3 linked regions of the Homo sapiens genome follow. The protein of the gene in region 2 interacts with the protein of the main gene of each other region in a pairwise test. Each region holds a gene or a part of one and is shown on either strand. Other genes may lie near its edges.

Evidence for each region.
Region 1: the proteins of SPAG4 (region 2) and PGA4 interact in binary tests that used the Homo sapiens proteins (3 or more experiments, as listed by UniProt).
Region 3: the proteins of SPAG4 (region 2) and TNMD interact in binary tests that used the Homo sapiens proteins (3 or more experiments, as listed by UniProt).

What each region holds. Positions count from the first base shown.
Region 1 is NC_000011.10:61,217,546-61,225,347, reverse strand, and holds the start of PGA4 (pepsin A-4 preproprotein), read right to left. Parts: upstream 3,002-7,802; 5' UTR 2,948-3,001; coding exon 2,892-2,947; intron 2,406-2,891; coding exon 2,243-2,405; intron 10-2,242; coding exon 1-9. UniProt on the Homo sapiens protein: Shows particularly broad specificity; although bonds involving phenylalanine and leucine are preferred, many others are also cleaved to some extent.
Region 2 is NC_000020.11:35,611,751-35,618,847, reverse strand, and holds the start of SPAG4 (sperm-associated antigen 4 protein), read right to left. Parts: upstream 3,020-7,097; 5' UTR 2,845-3,019; coding exon 2,541-2,844; intron 2,512-2,540; exon of another isoform or gene 2,461-2,511; coding exon of another isoform or gene 2,436-2,460; intron 1,713-2,435; coding exon 1,608-1,712; intron 1,329-1,607; coding exon 1,262-1,328; intron 1,070-1,261; coding exon 1,008-1,069; intron 762-1,007; coding exon 718-761; intron 399-717; coding exon 373-398; intron 237-372; coding exon 128-236; intron 1-127. UniProt on the Homo sapiens protein: Involved in spermatogenesis. Required for sperm head formation but not required to establish and maintain general polarity of the sperm head. Required for anchoring and organization of the manchette.
Region 3 is NC_000023.11:100,580,548-100,587,936, reverse strand, and holds the start of TNMD (tenomodulin), read right to left. Parts: upstream 3,002-7,389; 5' UTR 2,919-3,001; coding exon 2,871-2,918; intron 2,707-2,870; coding exon 2,575-2,706; intron 1-2,574. UniProt on the Homo sapiens protein: May be an angiogenesis inhibitor.

The sequences.
Region 1 (7,802 bases), on a different chromosome or scaffold from region 2:
GTACTCCATCTGTCCAGGCGAGGACAGGGCAGTTCACGGAACGGGGTCTCTCTGTCAGGGCCTCCCTAGGGGCTGTCTCTGGGTCATCTCCTCAGTCTGCCTCTCCATCTTTTCCTTCATTCCTCACAGTTCTTATCTTTCTCTTCCCAGCCACTGTCTTCATCCTTCAAATCCCAGCCCTGGCGTCCCTTCCTCCTTGAAGTCTTCCCTGATTGCTCCCCCAATTTACCCTCTGCTCTCTGTTAAGCACCACAAGCACCTAACAATCTGCTGTTCCCTCTTTAGCCATTGTCTTGTCTGTCACAGTCTTCCCATCCGTACAGCGCATGTTCTCAGAGGATGGCGGTGGAACCTTCTAGCACCGGGCAAGTTACAGCTTAAGTGCTTGTGCCTTAAATTGTTTATCAGAAGCTAAGCAAGCCACTTAAAGATGGAAACCTGTCCAGTTTTCTTATTTCTACATCTAGATGTGTATAGCAGGTTGCAAGAAAGGGCATTGACAGTATTTTTATTCTTTTTTTTTGAGACAAGTCTCACTCTGTTGTCCAGGCGGGAGTGCAGTGGCGCGACCTCGGCTCACTGCAGCCTCCTCCTCCTGGGTTCCAGTGATTCTCCTGCCTCAACCTCCCAAGTAGCTGAGATTACAGGTGTGTGCCATCATGCCCGGCAAATTTTTGTATTTTTAGTAGAGACGGGGTTTCACCATGTTGCCGGGCTGGTCTCGAACTCCTGACCTCAAGTGATCCACCCGCCTCCGCCAATCAACCAGTATTTTTCTTGTTAGTGGCAGCATTTTCCCCCTGCCGGCTCTGTTCCCGCCACACTGGTCTGCTTGCTGTTCTTTGGCGATGACCAGTCACTCCTGCCCTAGGGCCTTTGCACTGGCTATTCCTTGTGCTAGGAAAATGTTTATTCTAGATCTTTCCTTGGCTGATCCTTTTATCAAAAATCAATCATTCAGCTCTCTAGTCAAATGTCCCCTCTGCCAACAGGCCTTCCGTGACCACTTTATCTAAATTTGCCCCCTCTCAATCTTCTTGTTCCCCATGCTCCCATTAATTAATTTGCCAAGGCCCTTATCATTACCTGAAATTATCTTACATGGTTGTTTATTTGTTATCCCCTTTAGAGTATAAGCTCCAGGAACTTTGATTATTCACCATCATTTTGGCAACTTGCATAGCCTCTGGCACATAGAGAGGTGCCAATATTTGTTAAATATTTGTGAACTAAATAAATGCGCTAATTAAGCCTCTTACCAAGGGCCTGGCAGACCCCATGCTAAGCACTCCAGAAAACATGATCGTGTTAATTCCTGGCAACATCCTCTGACGGTAGATATTAGTGGTTCTGTTTTCCAGACCAAGACACAGGCTCAGAGTATTTAAATGACTTGGCCAAGGTCCTGTGGCTTAGAGGCACTAGGACCCATATTTGCACCAGGTCTGCTGGATGGCAGAGGCCAGTCTCTGAACCACAGGCATCACTGCTTTGTGCCCTGTGCCAGTCACAGAGGGGACATACAATATCTGCAGGAGGGCAGGGTGTTTGCTATCGGGTCTCAAATAACAAAGTCAGGGTGATCTTTCTGAAACTCAGATCTGATCTTGTCATCCCCCTGTTTAAGATAAATCAGAGGCAGTTAGGATGGAGCCTCTCTGCGTCCACCCCTCAGTTCCTCGGACCGCAGTCTGCAGCACCCTTCTTCCCTCCCTCTCGGCTCCCCTTCAAAGGCACTGTGCTCCCGCCTGCTACAGGGTTTGGCACAAGGGATCAGGCTATGCGGAGTTCTGTCTTGTTCTCTTGGAAACTCCTGCTCTTCCTGCGTGGCTCCAGGGAGGCTCCCTGCCCAAGTGGCAGACTCTCGCAGTGTGACACCGTCACTCTGTAGTCCTCCTGCTGCCTGTTCTTTTCATTGGTTTGCGAGACCCCTTGATGACTGTGTTTGTCTCCTAGGCTATGAGTTTGCTCACTGCTGTCTCCCCCTGAGCCCAGCACAGGCCCTGAAATAGAATGAGGCGCTCAGAGAAATTAACATTGCATGAACGAGTGAACGAATGAATGAATGAACTCTGACTGTGAGCTTTCCTGCCTGCCCTGGGCCACTGACATCTAGGGGGCAGACTCTGGGTCACTGCCTGGAGCCACAGAGCCCAGGCCCGTCCTCCAAGACCCCTGGGACACCCTCTTTCCTGCGGGCCAAGTCCTCAGAGCTGGCCCCACCACTTGCCCGCACACTCACATCCAGGTAGTTCTCCAGGGGCTGTTCATCTACCAGGGTGGGAGCCTCCCACTGGGGGAAGTACTTTCTGGCTGGGTTGAGGTTGTGCTTCTTCAGGAAGTCCTTCAGCAGGCCACGCTCGGACAGGGTGCGCCTCAAGGACTTCTTTCTGATGAGGGGGACCCTGTGGTTTGGAGAAGGAAGAGGAATTAGGCAAGGATTCTGCTGACCGGGTGCTGTGGCAGCCCCAGAAGGGAAGGGAAGCTGGTCTAAGAGAGGAAGAAGGAAGGAAAGGAGACGCCCCCTCTTCTGCCCAACAATGCAAAGAAGTTAAGTTGACTAGTGCTGGAGCTGGGAGCCAAACCCAGGCTGGACTCTTAACCAGCTGATCTAAGAGAGGAAGATGGAAGGAAGGGAGAAGCTCCCACTTCTGCCCCATAATGCAAAGAAGTTAAGCTGACTAGGGCTGGAGCTGGGAACCACAGTCAGGCTGGGCCCGAGTTTTAACCATGTCTGCAGGGCTGCCTCCCAAAAAGGCAGAGAGAGAGGCGGAAAAGGGGGATGGAGACAGCTGAAGAGAGAGAGAAAAAAAAGGGAAGAAGGAAGACACGGGAGGAAAGAAAGGTGATGTGGGAGGCAGCGTCTTCACACCCACACCACCCGGACTCACTTGTACATGATGCACTCAGAGAGCGCCACCAGACCCAGCAGCAGCAGCCACTTCATGGTTCTTCCCGGGTCCCAACTCGAGGGAGAAGGCAAGATGGGAGGAAGGTGCAGAGCAGCAGCATGAGCTGCCCCTTATATACAAGTTGGGTCCCGCCTTATCGGCCTCTGAAAGTCACCGGTTCCCCTGATCCCAAACAGAGAAGCTCCTGATAAGATTGTGGCTGCCCTGAGCCACATTCTGAGACCTTTCCAGCTGAGGCACTTTCCATTGTAACCTTGCACCATGGGGAGGGGGGAGGGTGCCATGGGGGTGGACCCGCAGAGAGAGAGAGGAGCAATGACCGGGAGGCTATTTTCTTTTCTTTTCTTTTTCTTTCTTTTCTTTCTTTCTTTTTTCTTTTTCTTTCTAAGCAATGACCTGGAGGCTTATTTGTTTTCTTTTCCTTTCTTTCCTTTCTTTTCTTTCCTTCCTTTCCTTCTTTCTTTCCCTTTCTTTCTTTTTCTTTCTTTCTTTTCTTTCTTTCTCTTTCTCTCTTTCTCTCTCTCTCTCTCTTTCTTTCTTTCTTTCTTTCTTTTCCTCTCTTTCTCCCTTTCTCCCTTTCTCCATTTCTTTCCTTTCTTTCCTGAGGGAGTTTTGCTCTGTCGCGCCGCCAGAGGCTTATTTCTGAAGCATTGACAAGGGCCTACGTTAAAACTTTACCAGCTGAGCATTTTGACAAAGTTGGTTAAAAGTGCGTTTAACACAGCATTGGAGAGATGTGAAGGAGCCCCAGGTGGCCTGATTTGTCCCAGAGGGCATGCAGCTGGGGTTCTTAGAGAGCAGCCTCCCGACTCAGTCATAGGTGGTACTGGTTGTGGTCACTGCTTATTCACAGCACATTGGGGGGGTCAGTCGTTTGGGACTCAGGACACAATTCCCCACATAAGTGTCATTGTGTGGGGTTGTTGGGCGTCTGACTAGCCTATGGGCCTTGTGGCTTGCTTTTGGTGCAACTGGGCTGAGTCTGGGAAGGAGATGTGCACAGTACACGGGGGAGGAGGGAGACAGCACCGGGAGAATGCTGCCTTCCCTTCCTGGAGGAGGCAAACTTCAGACAGGCCAGGTATGTCTTTGGAATCTGTGTCCCTCCCTTTCTGCACCGCTTCTCTTTCTTTTGCTCCTTTCCCACCCTCTCCACCTTTGAGATCCCACCTGGGTCTGATTTCTCCAGGTGCTCCAGGCTTACAACTGGGTTGAAATCAGCTACAATGGAGCGAAGCAATCTGGGCAAACAATTCATACTCATGGGTGAGTGACTTAGAAAGAGGATGCTTGGCCGGGCGCCGTGGCTCACGCTTGTAATCCCAGTACTTTGGGAGGCTAAGACAGGTGAATCACCTGAGGTTAGGAGTTCAAGACCAGCCTGGCCAACATAGTGAAACCCCGTCTCTACTAAAAGTAGAAAAGTTAGCTGGGCATGGTGGTGGGCGCCTGTAATCCCAGCTACTGGGTAGGCTGAGGCAGGAGAATCACTTGAACCCAGGAGGCAGAGGTTATGAGAGGTGAAGCCGTCTGGGCTTCTGAGTCGATTAGGGACTTGGAGAACTTTCGTGTCTAGCTAAAGGATTGTAAATGCACCAATCAACATTGTGTGTCTAGCTAAAGGCTTGTAAATGCACCAGTCAGCACTCTGTGTCTAGCTGAAGGGTTTGTAAATGCACCAGTAAGCACCAGCTATTACACTCCCCGCGAAGGTCTGCAGCTTCACTCCTGAAGCCAGTGAGAGCACGAACCCACCAGAAGGAAGAAACTCTGGACACATCTGAACATCTGAAGGAACAAACTCCGGACACACCATCTTGAAGAACTGTAACACTGATCGCGAGGGTCCACGGCTTCATTCTTGAAGTCAGTGAGACCAAGAACCCACCGGAAGGAACCAATTCAGGACATAGTTGCAATGAGACGAGATCTTGCCTCTGTACTCCAGCCTGCGTGACAGAGCTAGACTCCGTCTCAAACAAAACAACAACAATAACAAAAAAAAAAAGACAAAAGAAAAAAGAAAGAGGATCCTTACCAACCCAATGGATCCTCCACTTTGTGAGCTTTTATTCAGTGAAGAAAGTAGAGTGAAAACTCTGATGCAGAAATTGCTGGGGAGGAGGACAGGGGAGCGGGGAGGTCACCAGGTAGATAGGAAGCCCTGTCTCAGGGTCTTGTTCTGAAATCGGATCCCCTGGGGCATCCTCAGACTGTCCAGCCATGAGAGCCACAGGTTCTATAAAAGCTCCAAGTTGCCCCCAGTGCCTCCAGGTGAGTATTGAGGAGTGGGCAGTGTGGATAAGTTCAGGGACAGTGGTGGTTGGTAGAAAACACATTGACATTACACACTCCCCAGTTAGTTGAAATCTTTGTGCCCCAAATGTGAATCCTGGGCCCATTTTCTTTTGTTTTCTTTTCTTTTTTTTAACTGTGAATGTTACTCCAGTATGACTAGCCCTTGTATTTTCCACGTTCACGTCCTCTGGTGCCTCCTTCTCTTCCTCTCAAGCTTCTCTCTCTCTCTCTCCCTTTCTTTTTTTTTGAGACAGGGTCTTATTCTGTCACTCAGGGTAGAGCGTAGTGGCATGAACATGGCTTACTGCAGCCTCAACCTCCCACGCTCAATCAGTCCTCTGGCCTCAGGCTCTGAGTAGCTGGGACGAAAGGCATGAGCCACTACACCGAGCTAACTTTTGTATTTTCTGTAGAGACAGGGCTTCACTATGTGGCCCAGGCTGGTTTCGAACTCCTGGGCTCAAGCGATCTTCCTGCCTCAGCTTCTCAAAGTGCTGGGATTACAGTGAACCACACTGCACCTGGCCCTCTCTCTCTTTATGGATACATAATATTTTACATATTTTTTGGGTTCATGTGATATTCTGTTACATGCATAGAAAGAGTAATGATGAAGTCAGGGTATTTGGAGTATCCGTCACCTTAAGTATGGGTTGATCCTAGCACTCATGTGAGGAACCTGATGGTCCTGAAGATGCTGCCTAAGTTCTGGGGGCACCAGATGGAATCCCCTCACTCAAGGCTGCCACCAGATGGAAGGGAGGGAGCTTGGAGCCCAAGGATGGGCACTGATTTTGGGGGCACAGCTTGTCTGGGGCCCACATGGGAATTTTGAGCAGAGGAGAAGTATATTTGGGAAGCAGAAGGAAGATTCCCCAGGCAGAAACGTGCAAGCCCCTTTACACATTCATTCAAATGCCTTATTGTGCACTTGCTGTGTACCGTGCAGGGATGCTCTAGCTGCGGAGGGTACATCCCTGAGCATGGTAGGACTAGGCCGTGCCTTTGGCGCATTTGTGGTCAGTTGAAGGGAAAGCTGGTGTGGAAGGGGCTCTTCCTTTCCACCTGGATGGATATTTGGATCACATTGAGGGGAAGCTCTCAGATTGGTGAAGATGATAATGTTTCTCCACATTAGAGATTTTAGCACCCTGAGGGACGCTGGCATGCTTGCTGACACCAATTCAGGGGTATGGCAGAGAGACTGTAGGATGGCCCCCAATTATTCATGCTGCTGGTGGTCACACCCCTGTATAATCCCCTCCCCTTTTGTGTAGGCAGGACTTGCTTCTAACTAACAGGATACAGCAAAGTAGATGGGATGTCAGTTTTGTGATGACATTATACAGGCTTGTAGCTTGTGTCTTGCTAGCACACTCTCTGTATAGACTCTTCCCCTTGCTGACTCTGATAAAGAAAGCTGCTCTATAAAGAGGCCCAAGAGGAAGGAACGAAGGGTGGCCTCCAGCTGACAGCCAGCAAGGAACTCAGGCTTTCAGTGTGACAATCTGCAAGTAACTGAATCCTGCCAGCAAGCGTGTGAGCATGGAAGCAGATCCTTCTCCAGTCAAGCCTCAGATGAGACCACAGACCAGGCTGACATCCCTGACTGACAGAGGCCTCAGCTGAACCGAGCCTGGATTCCTGACCCACAGAAACTGAGATAGTGAGTCAATGTGAGTTGTTATAAGTCATTCAATGTGTGTTAACTTCTCATCAGCAATAGAAAACAGGACTGGAAACCTTGTTGATAACTCGAAAAGGATCCACCTGATTGCCTCTTGCTCTTCCCTCTTTTGGGACCATTTCAGTGCTCTGCTAGTTGTTTTTCTGCTCAGGTAATGTGAGTGATCTGAAAAGGGGGAAGGTGACATTGTTGGTCAGGTCATCTGCAAATCTCCCACCACACAGCAGTGCTTACATTTGTGTGCCTATTTGTGCTTTTCTGAATGCTTTGAATTATTTTAAAAAAGAATTATTATACTATAACCCCCACTTTTTCGCAAGTGATGTAGCTCAAAGGGGTTAAGTGATCAGTGCAGGTTCACATAACTAAGTAATGACACAGATGGGACCTGAACCTGGGTCTCCGGAGGCTCTGGTCCCTGGCCAGACTATGTGACCATGTACATCCACCTGGTTTCTGTTCATGGGTTAGCGTGTGACAGGAATATTCCATGATGGCTGCAGCCTCCCTCCCAGGTGCACTTGGAGAAGCCATTCCACTCAGCCCCCTTTACTAGAGGAACCCTTGGGATGGAAAAGGGAATCCTGATTCTGCAACCACGTGCTCCCATGGGATCTGATTGTCAGCCAGGGCTGATCCGTGGCTGCCAGCAAGGAAGCCGCAACATCTCATTGTACGAGACTGGCCCGGCAGAAAGATTAGACAGCAACGTTTGCTTTGCCATTAGCCCTGCCTGGCACTCAGTATGGTATTGCCTGGCTTTCAGGGGGACTGGTAGCAGTGTCTCTGATGCAGGGCAGCCCCTGCCAATGGCACAGGTGTTCATAAATGTTCCATGAACCAATCAAATCAAGCAATGGAATGAGATCTAAGGAACCCAATCATGGCAAGGCTGAGATGGAGCA
Region 2 (7,097 bases):
GCTGGTTGCTTTGGGATGGACTTCGTGGGCACCGGGAGAAATCCCGCAGGGCTCTGGGCGGAGCTTAAGTCTCAGGACCCTGGGAGCAGGGATCCATCAGGGGTTTCCAAGGTGGGCCGGGGCTCACCTCGCTGTTGGCTGCCCGAACAGTGGACACCTCCTTGTGGAGTTTATCCAGCTCGGCCTGGAGCTGCTGCAGCTGCTGCCCCTGGGAGCGCACGCGCTCGTGGTACTCACTGGAGGTGGGAGGTGGGCGCCGTGGGGTTGGCTCCCTGTCCCCCTGGACACCTCCCAAAGGCCCCCACGCCTTCAAGGTTCTCAAAGAAGCAACTTTGAGCCCCCCAATTTCCCACCCTAGGTGCCCTCTTTCACCTTAGAGTCAGCATCTCCTTAGGTTCCTGTTGGATGAAGGGACAAAACACAGAGCCGCTCAGCTCCCGTCGTCCTTGCTCCTACCTCAGCCTGGAAACGGCCAGGGCTTCCTTTTTGAAGACTGTGTCCCCTTTCCTCGACTCCTCCTTGACCTCCCAGTATCAGAGCCCCCAAGAGACCCTCAAGCACAATCCCTCATAAGTCTGTTTATATCCAGCCCTTTCTTAAGGATTGTAGCCTCTGGCACTACCCCCACCCCAGCAGACCGACAGTCCAGGGGACCCCCACAATCTCCGGGTTCACAACCTGCCAACCCCCTACCCCAAGACAGTCTCCCCAACTCACATTCTCCAAAGGAGAGACCAGGTACAGAAGCCCCAGCCAGAATGCTGGAGAAAGAGAGGGAGGGGTCTCAGAAGGAAAAGGAAGAGAATGGGTTTCCCCGGCATAGGGGGACAGTGGAAAGAGGCTTGAGGGGGTTAAGCCTGGGGAGGACCGTGGGAGTCTGAGGGGGAATTAGGGGGTTCTGCAGGGGAATGCCAGGAGCTGCAGGACCGAGGATGTAGGAGAAAATGTGCTGGGTTTGCCTCCAAAGCACCCAGGGCAGGGGCTCCAGGGAATTCACTGCCCCTCACCTGACAGAAAGAGGCTCAGCAGCGACACAGCCGTGAACAGGAAGCGGATGGAACAGACCTCCCTGGGGAACCGGAGGGAGGCTGAGGCCCCGACCTGCTCAACCCTCCAGTCCCCACCCCAGGGTCCTAGACCCAGCTCTTGCCAACATGACTCAATCAGATCTGAATCGGCTCAAGCGCCAGCAAGGTTCCGGCCCTGCTCCCCACCCCCTCCAAAGAGCTGTTCCTGGGGCGCCAGCGTCCCTTCCTCTGACCTGTACATGCTGACCAGCACGTCTCCTGCCAGGGATAACAACACGCTCAGCCCCTGGAAGAGCAGGCCTGAGGCCAGGACAGAGGGTCAGAGAGGGGCCCACGGCAGGGAGAGGCGGGGCTCAGCCTGCGTGGTGTCCGGGTTCAGAAGGGGCTTGGGAGGGGCCGGGGGTGGGCCTGGGGCTCAGGAAGAGAGGGTCGGCTAGGATAATTGGATGGGGGCTAGGAATGAGTTGAGGCTCGGAGAGGGGCTCGATACTCAAACGGGGGCCGGGGGCTCAGAGAGAACTGGAGTTCGGAGAGGGGAACCCGAGGGTCAGAGGGGATCGCAGCTGGCCTGGCCCGTACTCAGAAAGCTCTTGAACACCCGCGGGGGAGGCATCTCCTGCCTCAGATCCAGGGTCGGGAGAAGGTCGAGCGGCTCCTCAGAGACTACTGGAGACCCAGTCGGTTCTGCGGGAACCCAAGGGCTCCACTGGGGCCTTGCGGACCACAGACCTATTTTCCCCTCGAGACCGGGCCGCAGATTGCTCAGTCCACAAGCCAGACAGCTGGGAAGTCTCTCACAGGCTTTGGTCCCACCGCAGCCCTATCCCGGCTCCAGCTCCGCCCTCTGAAGCCCCGCCCCTCAGGGAGGCTCCGTCAAGAGTTGGTCTCCTGGCCGGGCGCGGTGGCTCACGCCTGTAATCCCAGCGATTTGGGAGGCCGAGGCGGGCGGATCACCTGAGGTCGGGAGTTCGAGGCCAGCCTGATTAACACGGAGAAACCCCGTCTCTACTAAAAACACAAAAATTGGCCGGGCATGGTGGCGCACGCCTGTAATCCCAGCTACTCGGGAGGCTGAGGCGGGAGAATCGTTTGAACCCGGGAGGCGGAGGTTGCGGTGAGCCGAGATCATGCCATTGCATGGCATGGGCAACAGGAGCGAAACTCCGTTGCAAAAAAAAAAAAAAAAGAGTTGGTCCCTCCCCCAAACGGATGACCCGCCCCCAGCCTTAGATCTTGGTGGAACCCAATTGTCCTGGGAGCCACTCACGCTAACATTGAGGCCGCGCCCCCTCAGTGGCACCCAACCACAAGATTTTCCCCGCCCCTTCCCATAACCGTCCAGGACACCGAGGCTCCGCCCCTTAAGGGATCTCATTTAGCACCATCCCTTTACCCTACAGGACCCACCTTGTAGGAGGTGCCCAGATATCATCTTAGCCCCGTCCCCGCCCAGCACCGCCCTTTAGGCCCCGCCCCCTCCACTGGCTCACCCGGGGTCGACCCCGCCCGCACCCGAGGCCCCGCCCCTCACGGTTGCCGCGCCACAGGCTGTCTGCCAGTTGTGGCTCCGAGGCGCTGGCTTCTGCTGAGAGCTTCCTGCCCATGTGGTTCCTCCGGGCACTCCCGCGCTCAAGGCGGGCTCACCGCAGCTCGGGCCCCGGGCTCTTCTGCCCTCGGGCTCCCCAGGCCCGGGCTCCGCTGACCGGAGCCCTTTGCTGTCCTCCGAGGTGATGCTCATTGAGCTGTTCTCGCTGAAAAAGTTGGGCGTGTGCTTGCGCGAGGACGAGGCCGAGCCCGGGCGGGAGCTTCGCCGCATCCTGACCCCCTGCTGCCTAGTCACTGACGCTAAAGCCGCCGCTGCGGTCGCCAAGGCCCTGGGGCCTCCTTCAGCCGCTGCGCGCCGCGGGGACCCCACGGACCCTGCGTGAAGTCGGCAGGCCCCGCGGCCGCACCTGCCCTCCCGCTGTGTCCCGGCCGGCTGCTGACGTCACAGAGGAGCCTCGGTCTCCGCGGGCTGCCCTGGCCGCGCGTCACGGAGCTGGCCGTGACGTCACCTGGAGCCGTAGCCATGGCAGCCTCTCCTTCTGACTTTGTTGTTGTTTAAGAGACAGGGTCTTTCTCATTGCCCAGGCTGGAGTGCAGTGGCCTGATCATAGCTCATTGTAACTTCGAACTCCTAGGCTCAAGCGATCCTCCCGCCTCGGCCTCCCAAAGCGCTGGGAGTACAGGCGTCAGCCACCGCGCCCGGCCTCTTTTACAGCAAGCGATGATGTCACAGCACTTCCCAGAAAACCCCATCTAAAATGGCACTCAGTCTATAACAGTTTTTTTCTTTCTTTCTTTCTTTCTTTCTTTCTTTCTTTCTTTCTTTCTTTCTTTCTTTCTTTCTTTCTTTTTTTTTTTTTTTTGAGATGGAGTCTCATTCTGTTGCCCAGGCTGGAGTGCAATGGCGCGATCTTGGTCCACTGCAACCTCCGCCTCCCGGGTTCAAGCGATTCTCCCGCCTCAGCCTCCTGAGTGGCTGGGATTACAGACATGCACCACCATGCCTGGCTAATTTTGTATTTTTAGTAGAGACGGGGTTTCTCCATGTTAGTCAGGCTGGTCTTGAACTCCCGATCTCAGGTGATCCACCCGCCCCGGCCTCCTAAAGTGCTGGGATTACAGGCATGAGCCACTGCGCCCAGCATTTTTATTTTTATTTTATTTTTATTTTTTGAGACAGAGTCCTGCTGTGTCGCCCAGGCTGGAGGGCAGTAGTGCAATCTCGGCTCAGTGCAACCTCCGCCTCCCGGGTTCAAGCGATTCTCCTGCCTCAGCCTCCCGAGTAGTTGGGATTACAGACACCCGCCATCATGCCTGGCTAATTTTTGTATTTTTGTAGAGACGGGGTTTTACCATGTTGGCCAGGCTGGTCGTGAACTCCTGACCTCAGGTTATCCGCCTGCCTGGGGCTCCCAAAGTGCTGGGATTACAGGAGTCAGCTACTGCGCCTGGCCTCTTTTAAAGCAAGTGATGACGTCACAGCACTTCCTAGAAAACCCCATCTAAAATTGCACTTAGCAAATACCAGTTTCTATCCCCCTTCCCTGTTTTGTTTTTCTCCTCAGCACGTGTCACTAACATGCTATATATTTCATTTCTCTCTTTCTTTGAGATGGAGTCTCGCTCTGTTGCCCAGGCTGGAGTGCAGTGGCATGATCTCAGCTCACTGCAACCTCCATCTCCCGGCCTCAAGCAATCCTCCCGCCTCAGCCTCCCGAGTAGCTGGGACTACAGGCTTGCGCCACCACACCCAGCTAATTTTTGTATTTTTTGTAGAGATGGGGTCTCGCTATGTTGCCCAGGCTGGTCTTCAACTCCTGAGCTTGAGTGATCCACCCACTTCTGCCTCCCAAAGTGCTGGGATTACAGATGTGAGCCACCATGCCTGGCCCATTTATTTATTTCCTTATTGCCTGCCATGCCCACTAGAACATAAACTTAATCAGGGCACAGATTTTCATTCACTACTGTATCCTCCAGCACCTAGATAAGCCTAGCATGTAGTAGGTGCTCAAATATTTGCAAATAATGAATGTTAAGAAGGAGCAGGGCATCACTCAGGGCACTTCTAAATACTTAGTCCCCTTTGCTCTGCAAGCCCTTCAGCCCCCTCCTCTCATCCTAGACATCAGGTCAGAGAGCTCATTCAGGATCTGTGGGTCCCTCCTCCAGACCCATTTTTCCCAGGGGTCTGTGGGTTGAGAATTCAGCACCCACCAATCGTCATACCCACACTCAGGCTGCACACCTGAGCCATGGAGGAAAGAATGAGGAATCAGATGGTCACAGCCAGAAGACTAGAGGTCCCCAAACTCTTGCTATGTAACAGAATATCAGTGCAGCTTATAGAAATTCAGCTTCCCAGGCACACCTTGTGATTCTACTGCAGATACTGCAGAATTTCTGAGTTGGCCCAGGAATGTGCTTTTGTTTTGTTTTTGTTTATTTTTTAGGCAGAGTCTTGCTCTGTGGCCAGGCTGGAATACAATGGTACGATCTCGGCTCACTGCAACCTCTGCCTCCTGGGTTCAAGCAATTATCCCGCCTCAGCCTCCAAAATAGCTGGGATTACAGGCATGTGCCACCACACCTGGCTAACTTTTTTTTTTTTTGTATTTTTAGTAGAGACGGGATTGCACTATGTTGGCTAGGGTGGTCTCGAACTCGGGACCTCAGGTGATTCGCCCACCTCGGCCTCCCAAAGTGCTGGGATTACAGGTATGAGCCACTGTGCCCGGCTGGAGTGTGCATTTTTAACAACCACATTTGTGATCCTGGTTAAAGACCACATTTTGGGGCCAGGCTTGGTGGCTCACGCCTGCAATCCCAGCACTTTGAGAGGTTGAGGTGGGCGAATCACCTGATGTGAGGAGTTTGAGACCAGCCTGGCCAACATGGTGAAACCCCATCTCTACTAAAAATACAAAAATTAGCCGGGCGTGGTGGCCCGTGCCTGTAGTCCCAGCTACTTGGGAGGCTGAGGCGGGAGAATCACTTGATCCCAGAAGGCAGAGGTTGCGGTGAGCCAAGATTGTGCCACTGCACTCCAGCCTGAGCCACAGAGTGAGACTCTGTCTCAAAAAAAAAAAAAAGAAAAAAGAAAAACAACAACCACATTTTGAAAGACAATGCAGTATGTCATGCACAAGTTGCACAGCTAGGCAAACAGGTCCAGGTAGAGGAATAACACTGCATCACATTAGAATTCCCAAATCCTGCCCTCGAGTGCAGTCCTCTTAACTGCCATCTCACAACTTCCTTAGAATGTGAGGAGCTGGGGCCGGGCATGACGGCTCACGCCTGTACTCCCAGCACTGTGTGAGACCCAGGCAGTGGATCACTTGAGGTCAAGAGTTCAAGACCAACCTGGCCAATATGGTGAAACTCCATGTCTACTAAAAATACAAAAATTAGCTGGGTGTGGTGGCGTGTGCCTGTAGTTCCAACTACTTGGGAGGCTGAGGCAGAAGAATCGCTTGAACCTGGGAGGCGGAGGTCATAGTGAGCTGGGATCGCACCACTGCACTCCAGCCTGGGTGACAGAGCAAGACTTCGTCTCAAAACAAAACAAGAATGTTAGGAACTGGAAGTGGCAGTTTTTGAGGGGTTGAGGCACACGGACAATCTGTTAAGCTATGTTCTAGCCCAGAGGGGAGATGCCCATGCCAGGCTCCAGAGGGATGATCTCAATACCTTGCTTCATTAGGTGCCACAGGGCCCACACGGAAGAAGGGAGAGGAAGGCGAAATCACTGCAAACTACAAATTCTGGTCCATACCACCCCATCTCTGCCTCTGCCACGTTTTCTGTCCGTTAACTCCTTTGGGTCCTTTTAATAGAGGTGAGCCGGGCACAGTGGCTCACGCCTGTAATCCTAGCACTTTGGGAGGCTGAGGCGGGCTCACAAGATCAGGAGTTCATAGACCAGCCTGACCAACATGGTGAAACCCCGTCTCTGTACTAAAAATACAAAAATTAGCCAGGCGTGGTGGTGCACACCTGTCATCCCAACTACTGGGGAGGGTGAGTTAGGGAATTGGTTGAACCTAGGAAGCGGAAGTTGCAGTGAGCTGAGATCGCACCACTGTACTCCAGCCTGGGCAACAGAGTAAGACAGTCTTTTTTTTTTTTTTTTGAGACAGAGTCTTGCTCTGTCACCCAGGCTGGAGTGCAGTGGCACGATGTTGGCTCACTGCAAGCTCCGCCTCCCAGGTTCACACCATTCTCCTGCCTCAGCCTCCCGAGTAGCTAGGACTACAGGTGCCCACCACCAAGCCCAGCTAATTTTTTGTATTTTCAGTAGAGATGGGGTTTCACCATGTTAGCCAGGATGGTCTCGATCTCCTGACCTCTTGACCCGCCTTCCTCAGCCTCCCAAAGTGCTGGGATTACAGGCATGAGCCACTGTGCCTGGCTGACACTGTCTTAAAAAAAAAAAAAAGACTGTGGGGAGGTGAAGCCTTCCTCCAGCATCTGAGGGTTTCAGGTCTAATCTGGGCCTTTTTAAAAAACAGAACAGCCTGT
Region 3 (7,389 bases), on a different chromosome or scaffold from region 2:
CAAGTCTCATAGATTTGTTAAGGAAAGCCCAAAGAGCCTGGATTTTAATCTGCTGTTGTTTCTTGCTAGGCCATACCATTAAGGGGAGAGTCTTTAATTTATGTAAGATGCCTGTGTCCCTTTCCTATGCAACTCTTCCAAGACTAATCTGACTGCTAGTCTCTTCCCAGAATTCTTAAGTCTGCTCTAAGGCAGGCTTGTTGATAGGCGTACCCATTGGAAACATAGATGGTCTCTTGAGATCTTTGTCTGGGACCTGAAGGTAGTAGTGGACTAAGTAAAGCATCCTCATTTCCAGCTGATTTCTTAGTTTTCAATGAACCAAACCTGGTCTTATGAAGGCCATGACTTAAATATCAAAGACAATGAATCATAACTCCCCACTGGAATGGAAAACCAACAATATTTGTTCATGGTAGAGAAACTTGCCCTAGGGGACACCTGTTGTCTTTATCTGGATTACTTCATAATAGCTTTGTTCATTTCTGAGAGTCCCTTTGCTGAAAATGACATCCCAAAATGGATTACTTCACAAGAGGTTTGATTTTTGATAAACTTTATTCAGCAGCATATCCCACCTCTTCTGTGCATGCACTGACCAAGTTTTATTTTGGTTTGAGGTATCATAGGATTGCTCCTTATAATCATTAAAAACAGAACTAGAATGAGATGTAAAGATGATATAATAGGGAAAGAGAGGAGACCATGAAGCTGCAAGTGAGTTTGACACTTTGCAATAAAAAGGCAAGGTCTCCACCTAGTCGTTTATAGCTGCGTTGAGGCAAATAGCACTGTAAATTTATAAAAACACATATACTCTTTTGGAATAGCATTTGCAGTACCAATGACAACAATAAAACAAGAAAGGCCATTTGGCCCCTTATTTAGGCAAGCATCTAAGGGTGGTCAAAAGGACTAGCTATCCACCATGCCCAGTTAAGTACATTATGGCTGTGGAGAACAAAGGATTTATGGCCCTTTAACTCATGGATAATTTTCAAGAGGATCCAAGGTTCAACTTGTGGGGTGACATATCACCTTGGGAATTAGCTAAGTGGTACCAGAATTGTATTGGAATGCATTTTGGCTCTCTTATTAATTTGCTGTTTCCTTCCTGATCTCGATTGCTTTACCCACCCTGCCAGCCTGAACACAGGTGGCTTCTCTAGAAGGACATTTGAACGGTAAGTAGTTCAGAAGCAAGGAGCAGTAAGGGGAGGAGGAGTAGGGGATAGGGCTAACTATAGGCATTGGGTGATGCCTGAAATCTTTTCTGGAACAAAGTATAAATAAAAAGGCAAACAAAGTAGGCTGGCTTGCTCTCCCTCCTACTTAAACCTGATAAGATATCCTTTGGGACTAAATGAAAGTGGGTATGACAGCAGAGGTGGAGAACCCAAGGGTGGTTATGCTTTATACCTCTGTTATCTTTCAGACACTTAGCCAGCTTATTTTCTGCTTTTCCTGCTCTGCCTCTCTCTCCCCACTGACCCATATTTTTTTCTCTCTGCTCCTATTGCTCCTTTGGCTCCTAACGGTCCATGCCAACCCATTTTCTTGTATCATCCTCCTTCCTGGATTTGTGCTTTTTTCTCCCTACATCTGTTACCAAATAGAAATGAGCATCTTATGACAACCAATTAACAACAGTAATAACAATAACTTCAGCAGCAATCCACACACCAACAGAAAAACATGGCAAAGCCAGAAAACTATCTTCACAACTTGTAGTTTGTATATTTGTTGATTATCTTTCAAATGGAAATTGTGAGCATGAAGGGACTATGGTTTTATTTGGGACTATGGTTTTATTTATTTATTTTATATCTAAACTTGCCCATTGCCTATGAGCCCAGGAATAACAATAACACTAAGGTACAGAAATATAAACTACAGTGGCTAGCCAAGCTTCACCAAATGACCCCAGTATCAGAAGCTTTCTGAGTTATCTGTGATTAATGACTTGGTGTCGCATGCTTCTACCTTGTGGCATTGCTATCTCAGTGGGACAGTGATGATTGCAGCTGGCAAGGAGCTGAAAAGCTCTAGTTTCTTTTTAAAGTCATAAATAAATGTGAAGTCAGGTATGAGAATTGCTCCTCCTGAAAAGCAGCTTGCTGCCTGTTCTCACTGCAGATGCATTAAGTCAGAAACATAATCCCTGAAAATCCTTTGCTGCCACTTTGGGTGGTTTCTCCTTATGTGGTGGTCTAATTACTTTTCCATCAGTTTCTGCCCAGATAATTGAAAGAAAGATTAAAAGTATTTTTTCTTAAGGTAAAAACTTTGCTCCTAGGAGGAGTCTTAACTCCTTAAATATAAGCATTATAGAAGAATGGGTAATTCTACACCCTATCATTACTAACCAAAATATAGAAGATAAATTTTTTTCCCTTACCAAAATAATTAGGCAAATGAAGGAGAGAAAAATCTTGATTCAGTTTTTCATACCACCAGAAAATAAACACAAAAGAGACTTAATGATTTTCATTTTCAGAATAATTTATATGCCTACTAATTAAATTCAATCAAACTCAGAACAGAAGCATCAGATTATGATGTGTATTTACTTACTTTTTTGGGTACCTCCGGCCAGAAGTGCTTGCTCCCCCAAAACAGGACAATTAGAGTTAGGGCCAGGATACCAAACACCAGTCCACAAATCTTAAGTGATTTACATATTTTCTTGGATTTAAAAGCTTCTGCCTAACCAAAGAACAGAGAGAATAAAACAATACACAATAAATCTCAATAAGCAAGCCATAATTCAAAGTCACCTTTGATTCCACTTTCTAATGTTCACTTTGCAATATGATAAATCTGTGAAACCATGCTTCTGCTCAAAAGGGAAAAAATATGAATCAACTTACATTTAGAATGTGACAGTCTTCACAATTCTCTGGAGGATTCTTTGCCATGGTCTCTCAGCACACAGTACTCTTTCCTTGCTTTGAGAGGACTGAGAGACCACTGCTGAGGTGGAGTTGCAAGTGAGTCGGCTAACAGATGCCAGAGGAGAAGCTGAATTTATATGGCTCAAATATGTCATACCAGAGCCTGAGGGAGCCCAGGGGACTCCTGTGCTGCGATTTGTTACATAGATATACCCATATATGTATATAACTTCTGTGCACAGAATTCCATCCAGAATGGCAAAGACAGAAGGTTATAATGAAAACTATTGTCCTGGGGGTTGGGTTGGAAGGGGACCAAGCCTAGAACACATTGAAATGATTTTTCACTATGAACTTAAAATATCAGTGGCAATACATGCTGCACACTCCAGAAATAAGCAAACAAAACAAAGAAGGGAATGAAGTCCTAATTTCGATTCCATTTGGTTCAACAAATATTTATTGCAGGGATATTAAATGTCAGGCACTGTGCTTGGTGTTTGAGATTCAGAAATGAATAAGATATTGCCTCCTTCACTAAGTTAAAGCTCTTTAAATGGTGCTATCAATATGTACTTAACTAATTATAATGAAAACAGGATAAAATAAAGACTAATTCTAAGCTCTCTCTCTTCATCTTCTGTCTCTGATTTTTCTCCTTTCTTGGGTCCTCTTCCTCAGTCTGCTTTTTAATGTTCACATGCCTTATGGTTCTCTTCTTGATGATCATTCTCACTTTACACAGACTTCGTAGATGATATCATTCATTCCTACAGTTGAAAATATCACCTACATATCAGTGATTTCCACATCTGTACCTGTAACCCAGTTATATCTTTTAATTTCAAGGCCATTTGAACATCTCCACCTGGATATACCTCAGGAATCTCAAACTCAACATGTTCTATATCAAAGTCTTCTTTCAACACCTTCTCCTAACCTACTTTTTCCCCTCATATTCCCAACCTTAGTTGGTGGCTATATTAGTTTGCTAGGGCTGCCATAACAAAATACCACAGACTGAGTAGCTTAAATGGCAGAAATTTATATTCTTACTGCTCTGGAGGCTAGAAGTCCAAGATCAAGGTGTTATCAGGGTTGGCTTCTTCTGAGTCCTCTCTCCTTGGCTTGTAGATGACCATCTCCATATTCACATGACATTCTCCCTCTATGTATGCCTGTATCCTAATCTCCTTTCATTATAAGAACATCAGTTATATTGGATAAGGTCCCATTCATATGACTTCACTTAACCTTAATTACCTCTTTAAAAACCCTATCACCAAATACAGTCAAATATAGAAATACTGGGGGCTAGGGCATCAACATATGAATTTTGAGGGAACATAACTTAGCTTATAATAGTGGAATTGTCACGCACCCAGTCTTTCAAACCAAAATCTGAGGTTTGTCTTTCAAACCAAAAATGTGAGGTTTGTCTTTCAAACCAAAAATCTGAGGTTTTGTCTCTTTTTCACATTCCCTTTATCCAATCAATCACTAGATCCTATCTATTCCAATCAATCACTAGATCCTATCTATTCTAAATTTTTATATCTTTGAAAGCTGTTCTTTCCTATTGTGCTCACTGCTAACACCCCAGTTTAGTTTGTCATCCTTTTTGAGAACTTTCACATCCATATATTTTACCCAGGCTGTTCTCTTGGAGCTCCACATCCATATGTCCATCTAACCTGCTAGACATCTACAATACCCAACAGACACCTCAAATTCCATATATCCCGAACTGAATTAGTTATCTCTCCTTTCAAACATGCACTTTTTTTTTGGTATTACCTCTCTCACTAAATGACACAATAATCAGTCTCTAGAATAGAAACTTCCAGATGATCCTTGATTTCTTCCTGTCTTGTTCATCCCCATGGCTAATCAATTATTAAGTCCAGTTAATTCTGCCTCTGAATTAGCTCTGCAATCCTATTCTCTCCATTGTCAATCACCACTGTTTAAGTTGAGGTTCTCAGTCACTTTTACTATTGCAATAGAATTCTGTTTTCCTTGTCTCTCATACATTGTCTTCAAGGTGATCTTTCTAAGACTCAAATTTGAGGATAATCTCTCCCTTGCTTAAAATCCTTTAGTATCTATTCATTGTCTATAAAATCCAAGCCACTTATTGTGACATAGTAGGCATTTAATGATCTCGACTTTGTCCAACTCTCTAGTCTTGATTTTGGACAATTTTTTTCTACAGCGATGGAGCCAACTGGGAGGTCGCAGCTGGGCAGGAAAATGGGGCATGTACATATGACTACCTCCACATCCTAATGTCTCAAGGAAAATAATTTTCTAATTGTTGGATACATGATTGTGCATTAAACTGATTACATAAATTATGAAATATGTCACGATTCTATATGTTCTACAATTCTTTGGTCAAGCTTAAAGAGAGAAAAAAGAAAAGCCACAAGAGCAGTCTCATGGAGAAACTTATGTTTATTGGGTCAGATGGTTCCCCTCAGTGATGTTATTCACACTATGCCTCTGATGCCTGCCTCACACTGTACACCCTATTAATGAACATGCCCTACTTCTTCACACTGTAGGACATTTGCCCATGCTATATTCATTGCCTGGAGTTTTCTGCCTTCCCTTGTTTACCTGGAAAATTCCCATTTGGCTTTCAAAATGCTGCCTAGATGTTATCACCCCCTGAAAGCCTTTCCTGGTCTCATCTCTTCCACTTCGTTAAGTTAATTACCCTTTCCCTTGCTCTACTTTTGTATCTTGCTCATACTTCAACCGTTATACTTTGTATGCTGTATTATAATTCTTTTTTATGTGTTCCTCTCCTGAATAGACTTTGAGATCTTTTAAAACATGCCTTTCTTGTTAAAAGGATTGAATTAAACCAAGAGTCAAAGCAATATTCCATGGAAACATAGAGGGAAGAGTGATTAATTCTGATTCAGAAAAGCAGGAAAAATGGCACAAAGGACATGGCATTTCAATAGACTGTTCATTGATTAGCATGTATTTATTCAGTGTCCCCTATGTGGCAGGCATTGTTATAGGAGCTAGATATATATTCAGTAGTAGACAAGCAAACACAGTTCCTCCTTTATAGAGCTCAGAGTCTTGTTGGGTAGACAGACATTAAACTAAAAGGAAAAAAATCCTGTAAATAAAAGTACATAAATGATGATATATGCTAAGAAGGAAAAGTGCAGGTGCTTTAAAGCACCTAATTTGGATTGGGTGGGATGGGTGAGGGAAATCCATGCTGAGGAGTTGTCACTTAAGCTAAGACCTGAATAATGAGTAGAAGTTAGCTGGTAATGAGTGGGGAAAAGATTATTCCAGGCCAAAGGAACAGCACATGGAAATATCCTGAAGCAAAAAAGGGGTTGAATTATTTAGAGAATAAAAGGAAAGTCAGTGTAGCTGTGATGTAGTGAATGAGGAGGAGAGTTACTTGAGATAAGGCTGAAGAGGTAGGCAGGAGACATATTCAGAGTTGCATCTGCTAGGACTGTTTTTTGCTGTATGTAATAGAAACCAAGTTATGGCAGTTTAACCAAATGAAGGGTTTATTTTTCTCACATAATGGGAGTCACAAAGTCAGCAGTCCAGGGCTAGTTCAAGTACAAGGACCCAAGCTTCCATCTTTCTGTTCTGTGATCTTTTGAGCATGGCCTCCATCATCATGCTTCCAAGATGGCTGCTCCACCTCTAGGCAGGATAAAGGGGGGATAGCAAAGGGCAAAAGAACATGTGGCAGCTAAATTTGTCCCTTTCCATTAAGAAAGTAATAGTGTTCCTGGAAGCCCTGTCCTGTAGATTTTTGCTTATCTTATTGGCCAGAACTGGGTTGGATGACCACTCCTACTTATAGTGGGGTCTGGGGAGGTTTTATTTTCAACTGAGCCTGTTACCACTCTTAATAATATCTTTTTATGTATATATAGAAGGGGGAAACATATTGAGTAGGCAACTTATAATTTCTGCCACAAAGGTCATGGTAAATGTTTGAAGTTTATTTATTTAAAATTAGAAATAGGGTCTTGCTATTTTGCCCAGGCTGGACTTGGCCCAGACTCAAGTGATCCTCCTACTTCAGCCTATCAAGTTGCTGGCATTACAGGCATGTGCCCGTGTACTCAACTGAAGTTATTCTACAAACAATGGGAATTAATTGAAAAGTTCTAAGTAGAATTCCTTTTATGTTTATTAAAATCTCTCTGGCTGCTGTGAGAAGAATGAATTGTAAGGGGGCAAGAGTTTTAAAAGGTTGACCAGTTAGGAGGTAACTGAAAGAGATTATAGTGGCTTGGACTAGGAAGTGGTAGCAGAGATGGAAATAAGTAAACAGATCTGGGACATATTTTAGGTAAAGCATATACTTGGTGATAGATTGAATATATAGAGAATGAGAGAAAGGGAAGAACAAAAAATAACATAGATTCTGGTTTGTGCCTTTGGGTGGACAGTGGCACCATTCACTGGGATTAGGAAGCACTGAGGAGGACCAGTC